Linked DNA regions of Homo sapiens. The protein of the gene in region 2 purifies or fractionates together with the protein of the main gene of each other region. This does not show direct contact. Each region holds a gene or a part of one and is shown on either strand. Other genes may lie near its edges. The genes, in order: CTSC and CST6.

Region 1 (8,708 bases), about 22 Mb from region 2:
TGTCCAGCAAAAAAAAAAAAAAAAAAAAAAAAGTTATCAGTATAGCTCTATTACTCTCAACCAGAGGTGGCATTTTTCATCTTTACCCATAAGCCCCATGGTATATTTCTTAGTTTGGGAAATTATATCATAATACTTTGAATCTGTCTAGTCAGAAATTTAGATAATTTAAAAAAAAATTATTTTTCTGAAAGTATAGCTGGATCTAGCTTAGGATCTACATCTATCTAATATAGTTCCTTAACATTTGTTAAATGGCCACGGATAAGTCCTGTAATGCCATACTTTGCTTTAGGATCATGTGACTAAGGGGTAAGGAATTGGAAAGCAATGGGGAGCTAGCAGAATTTGAAAAATTATATAGGTAGGTTATTTTTCCTTAATACATTGAAATAGCCTCAAATTCTCAGAGAATACAATGTTTAATCCTCTAATATCTGTAGAGTTCATGGCTCAAATTTGTATTATTTGAATAAACTACTAATAGATTAATAATTACTCAACTAAAACACTTTGAAATGTGAGAGTTCCCTTATCTCCCTCGCAGGCATATGACAGAGGTGTGGCTTCTCACACCTTTGGTTGCCCTTGCCCTACCACCCAAACCCCTAGGGGGAGCATGCAGAGGGGCAGGTGCAGAGGCCATGGGGGGTGCTTTTGGGCTCTGGCCCCACAGCAGTGTCTAGGAGTGGATGTTGGAGACTCCTGAAGCCCAAGTGGGCATGTGTTACAGTGTGCTCTTTCAGCTTAGCCGTCTGCAGATGGCTTGTGTTAATCAGGTCATTAGACCCCATGCCTTATTGCAAGGGCAGGGGTCCAATGTGACAGCCTAAGTTCTTGCTCAGTGTACCAGAAGAATTGGATCACACGTGGGCTGGAAGGATGAGCACAAGGTTTTATTGAGTGGTGGAGGTGGCTCTCCGCGAGACGACTCTCAGCCAGAGAAGGAGGATGGAGGGGAAAGGTGTTCTTCCCCTGGAGTCCACTTGTTCCTGTTCTCCTCTGGGTTCAAATACCTCTTCCCTCCTTTTCTGCTGTGCTGTCCCACCACTCTCCACAGCTCTGTGCCGCTCTGTTCCTCTGCTCCTCTGGATGTTCAGCTCCTTGTATCTGTGCCTGCTAAGATTTTGGGTTTATATGGGGGAAGGATGGGGGGCATGGCGGGCCAAAAGGCACCTTTTTTGGTGTGAAAACAGAAATGCCTGTCTTCTCTTAGGGCCTTAGGTCTTCAGGCTTGAGGGTGGGGCCTTTGCTGAGGGACCACCCTCTTCTACCCAGTATTTCCCTGTCTCCTGTCCATATCAACATTACTAACTTTTTCATCTGCAGACTAATAATGCTAAGGTGTGGCATTTTTCAACTGTGAGACTATGTGAAGGTTTTTCCTGTCCAACTGATGGCATCCTCCCATAATTCTACCCCTTTCTTAAAAGAATCTTTTGCAGTATTTCTCCAAGTTTATTCTAGAGAATTTCTTGTCTGTGAAATGCTCTAGTTAATCAAAATTGGAAAACGGAGCATATCATATCCCCTTCTCAAATTCACCAAAGTGAAGTCCTAATGTGTCTTAATGTATCTGCATGAGACAGGAAGCTGAGATCTATTCAACAACAAAAATCCAAACAAGCATCAAGAGGAGGAGTGTTAGCACTTGAGCCTAGGGAGACTGTGGCTCCTGCCTGAAAGATGGGAGCCTCAGTCACAGCTGCTTTACCAAGTGTCATATGCTATGTTTCTGAGGACTCCTGCTAAAGCTCCCTTCTCCCTCCAGCCAACCACTTTTGTTTTAGACAAGGGCTGGGTTTATGAAGGACTGTTTTCATGACTAAAGCTTTATAGAAGGTTTAAGATAAGGAGATGGAATTGAGTGAAGTAGGAAATATGAAAGCAGATATTATAATCTGGCTTCCTGATTTTTCACTAGCATTTTTGTTTATAAATTAGTTCTGTTCTAAGAATCCAATGACGTAATAGAAACTCTCAAAGATTCTTAACTTGAGATATAGGGAGTCTTTGAAACTGCTGAAATTACAGACAGCATTTATTGTTTATGAGCATTTCTGAATCTAGAGCTTTCACTAGATTTGTAAAGAATGTGGGCCAAAAGATTAAGAGCCAATCCTGTATCTTGTACTCAAAATGTTTGTAATTCTCACCTTTTTATCCCCCAGACTCCTCTTGCTCTCTCTTCATTTTCACAGTGTTACTGGAAAGGGGTCCTGATCCAGACCCCAAGAGAGGGCTCTTGGATCTTGTGCAAGAAAGAATTTAGGGCGAGTCCTCAATGCAAAGTGAAAGCAAGTTTATTAAGAAAGTAAAGGAATAAAAGAATGGCTACTCCATAGACAGAGCAGCCCTGAGGGCAGCTGGTTGTCCATTTTTATGGTTATTTCTTGATTGTATGCTAAACAAGGGATGGATTATTCATGCCTCCCCTTTTTAGACCATAGAGGGTAACTTCCTGACATTGTCATGGCATTCTTTTTTTTTTTTGACAGAGTCTCACTGTGTTGTCCAGGCTGGAGTGCGGTAAAGCAATCTTGGCTCACTGCAACCTCTGCCTCCTGGGTTTAAATGATTCTCCTGCCTCAGCCTCCCAAGTAGCTGGGATTACAGGCATGACCCACCATGCCCAGCCAATTTTTGTATTTTTAGTTGAAACAGGGTTTTGCCATGTTGGCCAGGCTGGTCTTGAACTCCTGACTTCAGGTGATCTGCCTACCTTGGCCTCCCAAAGTGCTGCAATTACAGATGTGAGCCACCAAACCTGGCCTGTCATGGCATTCTTAAACTGTCATGGTGCTGGTGGGAGTGTAGCAGTGAGGAAGACCAGAGGTCACTCTCATCGCCATCTTGGTTTTGGTGGGTTTTAGCTGGCTTCTTTACTGCAGCCTGTCTGTTCTATCAGCAAGGTCTTTATGACCTGAATCTTGTGCTGACCTCCTATCTCATTCTATGACTTAGAATGCCTTAACTGTCTGGGAATGCAGCCCAGTAGGTCTCAGCCTCATCTTACCCAGCTCCTATTCAAGATGGAGTTGCTCTGGGTCAAACACCTTTGACAACATCATTAAGCCTCAGTTCTCACACTGTTTTTGTTTTGTTTGTGTGTGCAATGATGGGCAAATCTCTGCCTTATAGGATGGTAGAAAAAAGGAACTTAATATTGTAATGACTGTTTTGTGCCAGATAATTGCTTTAAACTGTATCAGCATCTTATTTAGTCCTGTTAATGATATGAATGTTATCTTCATAACAGCTGCCATTTTATTAAGGACTTATCAGAGAAAAACACTGTTCTAAGCACTTGTTACCCATTATTACATTGAATTTTCATAACAACCCTTTGAGGTAAGCATGATTATACCCACTTTAATAGAAGTGAACTGTAGTTTTGTAATGTTAGGTTCCTTGCCAAATGTTACACAGATAGTAAGTGATAAAATCATATGCCCTGAAATTACATTATGCTGCCAAACTTAAATTTCTTTTTTATCCTTTATATTAGTATATTCTTAGGTTTAAACAAGACAACTAGTTAACACATACTAGATTTTGTCCACAGTTCCTGGCTCATAACTCCCATAGCCCTTGTCACTATCTTTTAACGTTGGGGCACATTAGGCCTCAGAAGTAGGCCTCAGAAAACAGAGTCTCTCTCTCTCTCTCTCTCTGATCTTCTTCCGCCCTCCTCTCACCTGCCCAGGGCAGCACTCTAATCTTCTCCTGCCTTTCTGATCTTGGGTCATAAGACCTTCATTTCCAAAGATGTCCTGTGTCATACCCTAAAGGAAGGAACACTGAACAGAGAGAGGCTCAGAAGAATCTGGACAGGCCTTGCTGTGTTTACATCATTCCCTTTATGTCCAGTCACATCTCTACATGGTTGTCAGTTGTGCCTATTTGATGAAGTCCCCATATAAGGCTCACAAGGACAGGGTGCAGAGAGCTTCCAGATAGCTGAACAAGTGGAAGTTCCTGGAGGGTGGCGTGTTCAGGGAGGGCATGGAAGCTGTGTGCCCCTTCCCCCATACCTTGCCCTACTCATTTCTTCATCTGTTTCATTTGTAGTATCTTTTATAATAAACCACTAAACATTAGTTAGTATTTCTCTGAGTTCTGTGAGTCACTCTAGCAAATTAATTGAACCCAAGGAGGGTGTCATAGGATCCCCACATTATAGCTGGTTGGCCAGAAGCACAGGTAAACAACCTAGGGCTTTCAATTGGCATGAGAAGTAGGGGGCAGTTTTGTGGGACGGAGCCCTCAGCCTGTGAGATCTGATGCCATCTCTAAGTACACAGTGTCAAAACTGGATTGGAGGACACCCAGCTAGTATTCACTGTGAAATTGGTTGCTTGCTTGATTTGTGGGGAAAAACCCACATGCATTTGATCACAGAAGTCTTTTGTGTTGACAGTTGATAGTGTTCAGTGAGAGAATTAAAAAAAAATTGAGTTTCTTCTTCAACATACTCTCTCAATGTGAAACCACAGAAACTATTTCCATTCAAAGATGGAAATGGTTTGTTTGCATCTTAGTTTTTATTTATACATCTTAGAAGAAATGTCCAAGCTTTGTTTTTTCTCTCACCCTATATATAAAATTACCTATGAGGCACAGATTTTTATGATCCTTGATTATATAGACTTTGTCCAAATTGTGTGTTTTATAGCATTACTGTAACTTGTTATAGTAATCTTTGTGTATATTATGTCTCTTAACATTGTCTTCCATATTGTTAATGACCATCTCATATTTATCTCTGTATCATGTATATCTTCAACCAATGTGACTGGCTTAGGAGAAAAAATTAGTGAACAATTAACTAGTGTTTGTGTAATCTATACAATTGTCAAGGTTACAATTGCTATTTTTGAAGAAATCGTTGTTGTTTTTCTCTTTGTTTCATCTCAGTTCCATTTTGTCATGTATTCTTTTTTTTTTTTTTTTTTTTTTTTTTGAGGCGGAGTCTTGCTCTGTCACCCGGGCTGGAGTGCAGTGGTGCAATCTCGGCTCACTGCAAGCTCCACCTCCTGGGTTCATGCCATTCTCCTGCCTCAGCCTCCCGAGTAGCTGGGACTACAGGCACCCGCCACCACGCCCAGCTAATTTTTTTTTGTATTTTTAGTAGGGACGGGGTTTCACTGTGTTAGCCAGGATGGTCTCAATCTCCTGACCTCGTGATCCGCCCGCCTCGGCCTCCCAATGCTGGGATTACAGGCGTGAGCCACCGCGCCTGGCCCCTTGTCATGTATTCTTAACCTGTGTTATATCTAAGAGAAGCTGTGAGAGACGGGACCATTTGTGGATAGGTGCAGAGGGCATGAAGTAGCCCAGAAAGAATCTTTGCCATTGACTAAATTTTAGCCTAGTAAAAAACATCTGGTAACCACTGAAAAACTAGAACAGTGTGATATGACAATGCCCAGTTGAATAAGAAATTCAAATAGTTTATAGTAACAAAAAATAATTTTTACCACATTGTGACTAGTGCCCTAAAAACAAATTTGAAGGAGCAGAGAGAGAGAGGAAGTGAGTTTTCGCTGGGGGCTGGTGAGTGGAGGCTACTTTATGAGCAGTTTTGAAAATTACAAGTTAGGGAAAAACTCTTAGGGGAGTTTTAAGTGGTGAGCAACAGGCACTTGAGGTTACAGGAGCAGCAGCATAAAGATATAGAACAGAGAGGCCATTTGGCAGTCTTGGGGAAACTCCAAGAAGTCGAATGTGTCTAAAGCTGTGGTTCTCTCTCTGTGTGTGTGTGTGTGTGTGTGTGTGCGCGCGTGTGTTTGTGTGTGTGTGCATGTGTATGTATGTGTGAAATCGCTAATACAGAGAAGCTGTTAGAACAATTTTCTCACTTCCCAAAAATGTCCGTTCATTCATGGGCCTAGGCAACTCTCCTTTGTGTGTCTTACAGCCCAACACTGTCATATAAGGTGTGGTTCTATAATGAAACAGTTTTATCTGTTGTTTACGGAGCTAGTCAGCCTGTGTTATGCTTGTTACTGGTTGAGGGTGTCCAGGTTCTTGGCTTCTTGAACAAAGAATTGGACAAAACTCACAAATGAGGCAAGGAAAGAATGAAGCAACAAAAGCGGAGATTTATTGAAAATGAAAGCACACTCCACAGGATGGGAGTGGGCCTAAGTAAATGATTCAAGGCCCTGGTTACAGAATTTTCTGGGGTTTCAATACCGTCTAGAGGTTTCCCATTGGTTACCTGGTGTATGCCTTATGTAAATGAAGAGGGTGGAGTTAAGTTACAAAGTCATTTACTCAGTATAGGCCTTGTGTTAATGGAGAGGGTGTTACTCCTGGGGGTTGTGGCCCATGTAAACGGAGAGGATGAAGTGAAGTGACAAAGCCCTTCGCATTCCTGCCATTGCTGAAGTGTTTCCACTTTATTTAGTTCTAGGAAGTCAGTGTGAATTGGCCTTATGTTCCCTGCCTCCAGAACCTGTTCTCCTGCCTCACATAGACCCTTTTTTCCCTTTGCCAACTTCACTTCTTTTACAGCCACCTCACTACCAATGTGTCTGTCTCCTAAGTCAAACATCAGTGATTCCTCTGTTTTCTCTAAACCCTTCTTATGTCTTCTACTTCTCATCTCTTTCTTGGTCAAAAATCTTTCAAAAATGAGTAAGAATGCAGCTATTCAGGCAAACTAAAAATAACATCACAGTGATATACAAAACCAGTGTCATTTCACAAAGGAAAATTATCAATACTAGATCCTGAAAAAGAAACAGCGAATGAAAGCCATTTACACAACTCCATTGTGTAATTGACACATTGAATCACTCATAAAACAGGTGCTCTGGGTCTGAATCTAGATCCTAGCTAGTCTGGTAGCTGAAATCATAGAATTATAGTAGAGTTTAGGAAATCATCCTCAAAGGAAAGATTATATGTTGATATCAAATGTATATTTCCTTTCTAGGCCCAAACCTGCACCACTGACTGCTGAAATACAGCAAAAGATTTTGCATTTGCCAACATCTTGGGACTGGAGAAATGTTCATGGTATCAATTTTGTCAGTCCTGTTCGAAACCAAGGTAAAAAAATAAGCCTAAGTTTTTTGTTAATTTGTTTGGAACTATTTATTGAACAGTTGCTCTGTGTGATGGATTTCGGGGATACCTAGATGGAATGGGCATGATCCCCTTTTTACAGAAATAGAAAATAGGTGGCCTATGAATTATTCTTTCCTTTTATATCCATGACAAACTTTAGTAAAAAATTTTCTTTTCTACTGAGCTTAGCATTTATTCAGTACTCTTCTCAATATATTTTCCAGGTAGCTAGTGACAATCAGAGTGATATGTAAGACAAACTCATTTGTCCTCCTAGTAGGAAAGATTCTAGTAGAAGCAAAGAATTGTGTACCATTCTGCAAGTGGTTTGTTGGAATCTTTCTTTGATACCTGTTCCTGTATTCCCCCACCCCCATTAATTTAGTCATTAATTACTACATGAACCCGTAAAATAAATCCTTAAATTATTTTCCTGGTAGATTTTTTGAGCTGTGTAAGGACCTTTCAATTCACTTTACATTAGAATACGATATGTGATGGTAAGTATTAACCCAGCTTCCTGAGTGATGGCGTGAGGGCGGAACCCAGGTTCATGAAAAGTATTCCTATTATTGAATTTTACCAGTTATTTTCAGAAGTTTGATACAATGTGAGTTGATTTCATAACATGTCCTCTAACTGCACTTGATAGCAAATTATCTTGTTATCCTGAGTTGTAGCCAACAATGACTTGGAGAATCTATGCAATACTCAGTTTTATTACTTCTAAGCTCATTTTGAAGATAATACTACCCATGGCTGATTTGTTACTATAAAATAGGTTTAGTATTTGCTGTCTGGAAACATTCTGATTAGTGTCTCCTGGGAGGATTATAAATTTATAGTACCCAAAGATAAACTGTTGTTTCCCTTTCCTAAACTTTTAGTGATAATCAGTCTCTGCCGTGTCTCATTTTCATCACTTGCCCTCCAAGCTCCCATCTCACTGAATTCTTGCAGTGTTCTGAATGTTGAGAGCCCCAAGTGGGTCTTATAACAGCCAGTCAGCAACATTTCTGTTTTTCATCTGACACCAAGGGTCTCGTCTCTTTGCTTTTCTACCAGTTATTCTGGGCTCTTCAGCTCTAAAGAAAGTATAGGTCCTGAAATCTTTCCCTACCTTCTCAATTTCCTGGGGAGGGCTTCTTTGGAAAGTGGGATTGGAAATAAGATAAATTTGAAGATAATTGAGAAATGAATGGAAAGTGAAATTGAAGGGTCCATGTTAAGAGATTGCAAGTTATGCTATCACCAAATAGATTTTTTGTGCCTGAGAGGATTAATTCATAGTGCATATTATGTGTTGACTTTATCATTGAGGTCCTGGCACATGATAGCATTGGCATGATATAATTTGAGCTACTGATACTATAGTGTTGCTTCTGGTGTTGTTACCAGAACATCTAAAATATATTAGGATTTTTTTAATGGCAGAGGAAATGAAGACTAATATGACATAGTCCTTGTCCTAGTGATTTACAGTTTAGCAAGACATACAAGCAAAACATTAAAGTAAAGCATGATAACTACTTTAATAAAGCATTTTTTAAATTCATTGGTAACATAAGAGAAGGTAGAAGAGTTTAGCAAACCCTTCCCAAAAGAAATGATTGACAAGTTATATGAGATAA
Region 2 (7,961 bases):
GTGCATCTGAGGAACCTCTGGGTGTGGCATGTGGGTCCTTGGGTTGTGTTTGAGTTTTGTGTGTACATCTCCAGGTTGTTTCTCTAGGGTGTGTTGCTTCTGTGCTCATGAGTTGCTAGGCTGTGTTTCTCTGGGTATGCATGTGATATCTGCCAGCATCTGAGTGTGTGCTCTGGGTGTCTGTGTGTGTATGTCTGGTGTGTTGTGCTTTGGGTGTGTGCGTGTGTATATGTATGGGGGGGTATGAATTGCAGCCACAAATTCAGATGTGCAAATGTTGCAATGCTGTTTTCTTCTTCTTTTTTTATTTTTAATTTTTTTGAGATGGAGTCTCGCTCTGTCTCCCAGACTGGAGTGCAGTGGCGCAATCTCGGCTCACTGCAACCTCTGCCTCCTGGATTCAAGCGATTCTCCTACCTCAGCTTCCTGAGTAGCTGAGATTACAGGCACCTGCCACCACACCCAGATAATTTTTGTATTCTTGGTTGAGATGGGATTTCACCATGTTGGCCAGGCTGGTTTTTTTTTTTTTTTTTTTTTTTTTGAGATGGAGTCTGGCTCTGGCGCCCAGGCTGGAGTGCAGTGGCGCCATCTCGGCTCACTGCAAGCTCCACCTCCCGGGTTCACGCCATTCTCCTGCCTCAGCCTCCCGAGTAGCTGGGACTACAGGCGCCCGCCACTACACCCAGCTAATTTTTTGTATTTTTAGTAGAGACGGGGTTTCACCGTGTTACCCAGGATGGTCTCGATCTGCTGACCTCGTGATCTGCCCGCCTCGGCCTCCCAAAGTGCTGGGATTACAGGCGTGAGTCACCGCGCCCGGCCACCAGGCTGGTCTTGAACCCCTGACCTCAGGTGATCCATCCACCTCAGCCTACCAAAGTGCTGGGATTACAGGTGTGAGGCCGGCTGCAATGCTGTTTTCTTTAAATGACATTACATTGAATCTGTCCCCTCACCCCTCCTGTGGGCGCTAGACAATCTCTGTCCCTCTGCGGCTCCTAGTCTAGCCCCTTTCAGGCGTCTTGCCCAGGGCAAGGCAAGAGAGGCGTCCTTGTGGCGTGGAGCCCACAGTGTGGACTGAGAGGCACTGTCCTAGCCTTCATGGTCTCTTGGCCTGCAGGGACTCTGCCATCGTTGGGCCACATGCAGGTGGAGGAATCTTTATAGGCTGGGAGCTCAGTGTCCTGGGTGAGGACACTGCCTGATTGAAGCCCCCCATGCCACCCATGAGCTCCTCCTGGGGCTGAGTGGGAGCACAGCACAGACTCCTCCTCAGAGTGCTCCCAGGCAGCCGGCCCTGTTCTTATCTCAGGCCATCGCCCCTCCTCTGTGAGTCTGCCGCCACCCCTGACCTCTGAGAATATTGGGAGTCTCTGGCTGTGTGTGGGGGCTCTAAGGTTTGTTCCTCTATGCCTGTGATGCTGGGGTGTTTGGGGGCTCCACATTTGGAGGCTCAGCCCTGCACCTTCAGCACTGTCTGGGCTGGGACAGCAGCAGCTCTGCTGCAGGTGGCAGGGTGACCTCTCAGCTTGGGCTGGGGAGCTGGGAGCTGCCAGAAGTGGGAGTGGGGGATGGGGGCAGAAGCGAAGCACTTGGAAGAAACCAATGCAAGAAGCAGCACTGGCCATTTATTGTGACAGATACGGCCCACGGACCTGAAGTGCCCTCCACCATGGCCCCAAACCCAATGGCCTTCGCCCTCGGGGACTTATCACATCTGCACACAGTTGTGCTTTAGGAGCTGAGAGGAGTTCTGCCAGGGAACCACAAGGACCTCAAAGTCACAGCGCAGCTTCTGTGGAGGGAATATGGGGGAGAAGGAGGGGTGAGCCCAGCCTCGACCTGTCTCCTCCCAACAGCCAGCCCTCTGCCTGCCAGGCTGCTCCAGGCCAAGAGAGGGACAATCACTGACCCAACGGATGTCAAGCCGCATGTCTGGGGCTAGACTCCAGATCTTGGTAGCCAACTTCCCCATTCCCGAGGGAAGCCCCAGCTTCCTTTCTGCACCCCATCTTGGCCCAGAGGCTGACTCATCCAGAAGGACGACAGGTTCAGCCAGACATCTAGACATCTACGTGTCCAGCCAAACCAGTTCAGGATGGACAACCTGAGTGCCTGAGGCTCTGGGGAGGGCTGGGGCTGGAGGAGCCCAGCTGTTACCTCCTGCTGCGCCCCTGCTGCCAGGGGGCAAGTGGTGAGGTCGACGTGGTCTCCAGTGACCCTGGTCTTGCGGCAGTCTGTGCTCCCCATCTCCATCGTCAGGAAGTACTTGATGCCGGCCACCAGCTGGGGGCATAGGGTAGGGGCAGGTCAGGGGTCTTGACCCTTGATCCTCACTTCTCACCTCTTGATATATTCTCCTGTTGCCCCCAGGCACTCAGGTGGGGAGAGAGGGAGAGGGGATGATTCAGACGGGGTGGGGGGGGGTGGGGGGGGGTGGGGGGGGGAGTTCTGGTGGGGATGGAGGGTGGAGAGGCCTGGAGGCTGAGCCCCACCAGCAGCCTTGGCAGACATCAGACATGCCCCATCTAGGGAGCTGCCCACTGTCCCCACCTGCCTTCCCTCCTCCCCGATCCACCCCATCAGGGCAGAGACTAGGACCAGGCAAGCCAGGAAGGCAGGTAGTGCAATACAGGGTTTAATTATGTCTTTCCTTGAAATTTAGATGGTTGTCCATCGTGGAGTTTTAGCATTAATTCGATTTTTAAAATATTGCATGAAAATATCCCGATTGCGCTTTTAGGCCCCCTTCATGCACGCTGGGGCAGCGCCTGTGGCCTCCCCCATCTGGGCCGGGTGTCCCCTCCCAGCACCCCGCCCGCCGCACCTGGCTCTGCGCCTTGATGATGTGCGTGTCTCGGAAGTAGTAGATGCTGTTGCTGCCCATGTTGTAGCTGGCCACGGCCGCCTGCGCCGCCTTCTGCACCTGCGGGTCGTCGGGCGACAGGTCCCGGAGTTCTCCGACCATGCGCTCCTGCGGCCGGGCCCGGGCGTCGCGTGGCAGCGCCAGGAGGCAGAATGCGACCAGGGCCAGGCCCAGCGCCAGCGGGAGGTTCGAACGCGCCATGGCCGTCAGTGCCGTCGGAGCCCTCAGAGCCGTGAGTGCCGAGCTTGCGGCCGCGCAGCTTTTACCCGCTGGGCCGCCCCGCCCGACGCCCGCGATGCGCCCCCGCGGCCTGGAGCTGGGGCGGGGCTCGAAGTTGCCGGGGTCCTGCGAGGTTCAGGGAGCCCAGGAGGCCGAGGGGGCGGCGCGCACCCGCGTGCCAAGACGCTTCCCTGCCCTCCAGGACACACCTGGCCCGGGGAGGGAGAGGACAGCGACAGTCCCCAGCAACAAGTGCCAGTACAGGGACGGTTCACGGGAGGGCTGTCCAGAATGAACTACCAACCGCAGCTCTTCGTGGGCTCTTACTGTTGCCACCATTTCCTAGCTGTGTAACCTCGGAGAAGTCACTTAACCACTCGCTGCCTCAGTTTCCTCTTCTGTACAATGGGTGTTGTGAGGATTCAGTGAGCTGAAACAGGTAAAGTTCTTAGAAGAGGTCTGGTGCTGGATAAACAGCAGGTGAGTAGGACACATTACTGCTCAGCGCTGCCTGACAACCTTCCTGGAGCGCGAGTGACTAATGTTTCTACCTGGCCAGGCACCTAGGCATGCTTGTAATTCCAGCACTTTGAGAGGCCAAGGTGGGAGGACCACTTGAGCCAAGGAGTTCAAGTCAGTGAATCGTGATCTCACCACTGCAGCATTCCAGCCTGGGCGACAGAGCTAGACGCTGACTCAAAAAAAAAAAAAAAAAAAAAAAAAAAAAAGAAGGCCGGGCATGAGGGCTCACACTTGTAATCCCAGCACTTTGGGAGGCCGAGGCAGGCAGATCACTTGAGGTCAGGAGTTCAAGACCAGCCTGGCCAACATGGTGAAACCCCGTCTCTACCAAAAATACAAAAATTAGCCAGGCGTGGTGGCACACACCTGAATTCCCAGCTACTCAGAAGGCTGAGGCAGGGGAATTGCTTGAACCTGGGAGGCAGAGGTTGCAGTGAGCCAAAATGGCACCACTGCGCTCTAGCCTGGGTGACAGAGAGAGACTCTGTCTCACAAAAAAAAAAAAGAAAAAAGAAAAAAAATAGTTTCCACTTTACAGAGAAGGGAAAATGGATTTGCCCAAAGACACCGGCAGGAAATAAATGGTGACACTGGCTTGTGTGTGCTGACAGTCTAAGTCAAATCTGTGGTCTTAAACCAGACTGAGCCCACAGGACACAAACTGCCCAGAAGGAGGGGGTGTCAGTCATGTCAGCTCTGCCATCTTACTGACGGCATGGCTTTGGGCAAGTCCCTCAACCTCCCACACAGAGCCTCCGTGCCCTCGTCTGAAAGACACCTTATCTCCTAAGTTTGTTCTGATATTGATGTTTCGAATCTGGCTGTCCCGTGGATACAGTGAGCATGTGCTGGAGGTACCAGCAAACAAGGCCCATGACTGTGTTTTTAAAGACTCCAATAATTGCCAGGTGTGGTGGCTCACGCCTGTAATCCCAGCACTTTGGGAGGCCGAGGTGGGCAGATCACTTGAGGCCAGGAGTTCGAGACCAGCCTGGCCAACATGGTGAAACCCCATCATAGCCCGCACGGACCTAGGGGGACTGAACAAAGCCGGGCAAACGTGGGAATAAAAGACAAGAGACAAAAGAGTATATTTGGAAGAAGGGGTCAGGGGGCACCTTGCCTCTAGTGGACAAGGGCCCTGAGCTTTACACAGCCCTCTGTATGTAGTAGGCAAAAGAGATAGCGAGAAAGGGGGAGGGTGATTGTCGGGTATGTCAGGTAATTGTCGGTCAGCACTTTGGTTCACAGCAGGCTTGTGAGACTGCATCCTTTGAACAATAGGTGCTAATTTTCTCAGTAGATAACTTCAGGGACCCCAGTGCCAAGGAGTAAGGCCCTCAGCAAACCTTTTGGTGGCAGGGCAGTGGGAGTTTGCCCACATCCTGCATTCGTGATAAACAGGTGGCTGTTTGATCATATAGCCTTCAGTGGAATGCTGAGTTGGTCACAATCCCTTTGGCCCTTTCGGCTCCCAACACCCCATCTCTACTAAAAATACAAAAATTAGCTGGGTGTGGTGGTGCACACCTGTAGTCTCAGCTACTTGGGAGGCTGAGGTGGGTGAATCACTTGAACCTGGGAGGCAGAGGTTGCAGTGAGCTGAGACGGCACCCACTGCACTCCAGCCTGGGTGACAGAGCAAGACTCTATCTCAAAAAAAAAAGACTCCAATAATTAATTGATTATTATTAATAGGTGGTGATCTATTAATCACACGGTAGCTCACACCTGTAATCCCAGGACTTTGGGAGTCGGAAGCAGGAGGATCACTTGAGGCCAGGAGTTTGAGACCAGCCTGGGCAACATAGTGAGCCGTCTCTACCAAAAAATCTAAAATAAATTAGCTGTGCATGGTGGTGCACGCCTGTGGTCCCAGCTACTCGGGAGGCTGAGGTGGGAGGATTACTAGAGTCTGGGAGGTCGAGGCTGCAGTGAGCAGTGATGGTGCCACTGCACTCCACCTGGGTGACAGAGCAAGACTCTGTCTCAAAAAAAAAAAGGAACAGATGAAAAGCAGTGTTGAAGTAGTCAACGCAAGAAAAGTCTGGATTTTGTTGAATTTTTTTTTTTTTTTGTGACAGCGCTCTGTCAGCCAGGCTAGAGTGCAGTGGCGCTATCATAGCTCACTATAACTCGACTTCCTGGCTTCAAGCTATCCTCCCATCTCAGCCTCCCAAGTAGCTGGGACCACAGGCGCATGCCCCCATGCCTGGTTAATTTTTTTCCACACCTGGCTAATTCTTATATTTTTTTGTAGAGATGGGGTCTCACAGTAGTGCCAGGTGGGTCTCGAATGCCTGGCCTCAAGAGATCACGAGATCCTCCCACCTCAGCTTCCCAAAATGCTGGGATTACAGGCAGGCCTTGGAATTATTTGTCTGCATTTTAGAGTTCAGTGTAGTTTGTATTTGTAATTCCATGTTGCTGGGGGGCGGGGCTTATTGTCCCTGGGGCACTAAGATCTTGCAGTGCTTAGAGCCTCCAGGGGCTTCACTGGGGCTTGGAAGAGGTGCTAGGTCACAGTACGTAAAGAGCAGCTGGCAACTGTCACTGTGATGGATATTGTATGTAGGCATCCAGCGTGTCACCCTCCCTTCCTGATTCTGGGCCTTAGAATCCCAGGACCACAAAAGGAAGTGATTTCCCACACAGAGACCTAGACCACAGCGGTCACTCACTGCCCAGGGCAGCTGCCAGCCTGCTACCCACCTCACTTCCTCAGCCCAGCTGTGGAAAACCAACTCTGCCATCTTCCTGGGATTCCAAGGAACCGTCACAAGTTCCTGGCGGCCTCAGGTGTCTGGCTTAAAGGGACAGACTCCAGTTTGTGGAAGTGCTGGCCGAGCTTGAGTTGATCAGGAGGATGACGCCTGGCCAGGACTCTGAGCTGAAAGCCTGGGAGGGGTAGAGGAAGAGTACCAGGATCGTGCCACAGGGGCGAGGTGGGAGAGGCAGCTCCCCTGGGCCTGCTGTGTCATCACTTGGAGCTTAGCCATGGCCACAGGTACCTCCAACAGCTCTCTCAAAAACTAGCCAAGGCCTGTCTGCCACTCACCAAGGGCACCCACTCCACCTGCCTCTGCTTTGTGCTGATGCAAAGGACTTTTTTTGCAGTACAACCTAGCAATTTCTGAGCACTTTTCACCCACTGATTCTCACAAGCACCCTGAGGGAGTACACATTATCCTCACTTTGCAGATGAAGAAGTTAATCAGAGAGGTCGGGACACTTGTCTAAGGTCACACAGCTAGAAGTGGTATCTTGGTAAGAAAAGGTGGGGAGGATTAACAATGGTAAGAACTCTTGCTGTGTGCCAGGCCTTGCGCCAGGGATTCAATATATGTTCTTTCATTCCCATAGCAGCTCTGCACAGACAATGACTATTATCTCTTCCTACAAGGAGGAAATGGGAGATCAAAGGGGAAAGGTTAGTGGTGGGTCCCGGTGCATGAGTCCTGGGCTGCTCCACAGGGGTTTGAGGTCTGCTGTGCATGGTGTAGGGGTTGTTTCTTGCAGATGGGGTGTCCCTGAGCAGACTTTCCCAGGGCCTGACTCCATCCCGTCTGGACCACTCTGGCTTCCAGGAGGTTTGCGCCAAGCGTGAGCTTGAGGTCGGTCAAATGTACTGGCCACAGGGCAGAGCCTCCAGTTTTGCAGTGGCCCAGACATCCCACCCCAGGTTGTCCACAGCACCCCTCTCTTGCCCCTGGCCTGATGGGTGGAGATGACCAGGGCAGGTTCTTGACATCTCCTTCCCTCTGGGATCAGGCTCTCCAAGGCTTCGATGCTTCCCCCAGAACCCTCTTCCTTGAACCTTCAGTTGGGCAGAGGATATTGCCCTCCCCCCAGGGCTCTGTAGCCCCATATCCTGGAAAGGAGATCTTTCAGCAAGGAAACCTGTAATCCAACAGGGATTAAAGCTCCCCTCTGGGGAGGAGCGCTCCTAAGCGCTGCTGATTCACTGGTTGAATCTTCACAACCCTGTTATCAGCTGGCAGAGGAGGCTGTAGCTCAGGGGAGTGAAGCAACTTGCTCCAGATCGCATGGGGAGCAAAGCCCCAGAATCGGGCCTGGCTGGCTCTTCAAGGCTGCCACCAGTCAAGGTTGGGAGTGACAGGAAAGAGCCCTGGTCCCCACAGGGAGGGGCCAGCCTGGAAAGGGATCAACAGTCACAAGCACCTGCTGGGAGCCTTCCATGCTCAGCAGGCTGCCGGGGGCAGGGCTTGTGGTGGTCCAGGTAGCCTCCCCCTACTTCCTTTCTGGGGGCAGCAGGAGCCCTTCAGCACCCCAGAGTGCATGGGCTGGGTTCACACGAAGTTCTAGGCTGGCTCTGAGCACTCATGACTAG

The links.
Region 1: the proteins of CST6 (region 2) and CTSC purify together in Homo sapiens (co-immunoprecipitation; 2 studies listed by BioGRID and IntAct, with this or other methods). This does not show direct contact.

The regions. Positions count from the first base shown.
Region 1 is NC_000011.10:88,298,881-88,307,588, reverse strand, and holds part of CTSC (dipeptidyl peptidase 1 isoform a preproprotein), read left to right. Parts: intron 1-6,943; coding exon 6,944-7,059; intron 7,060-8,708. UniProt on the Homo sapiens protein: Thiol protease. Has dipeptidylpeptidase activity. Active against a broad range of dipeptide substrates composed of both polar and hydrophobic amino acids. Proline cannot occupy the P1 position and arginine cannot occupy the P2 position of the substrate.
Region 2 is NC_000011.10:66,007,154-66,015,114, reverse strand, and holds CST6 (cystatin-M precursor), read right to left. Parts: upstream 3,108-7,961; 5' UTR 3,071-3,107; coding exon 2,831-3,070; intron 2,290-2,830; coding exon 2,164-2,289; intron 1,799-2,163; coding exon 1,715-1,798; 3' UTR 1,610-1,714; downstream 1-1,609.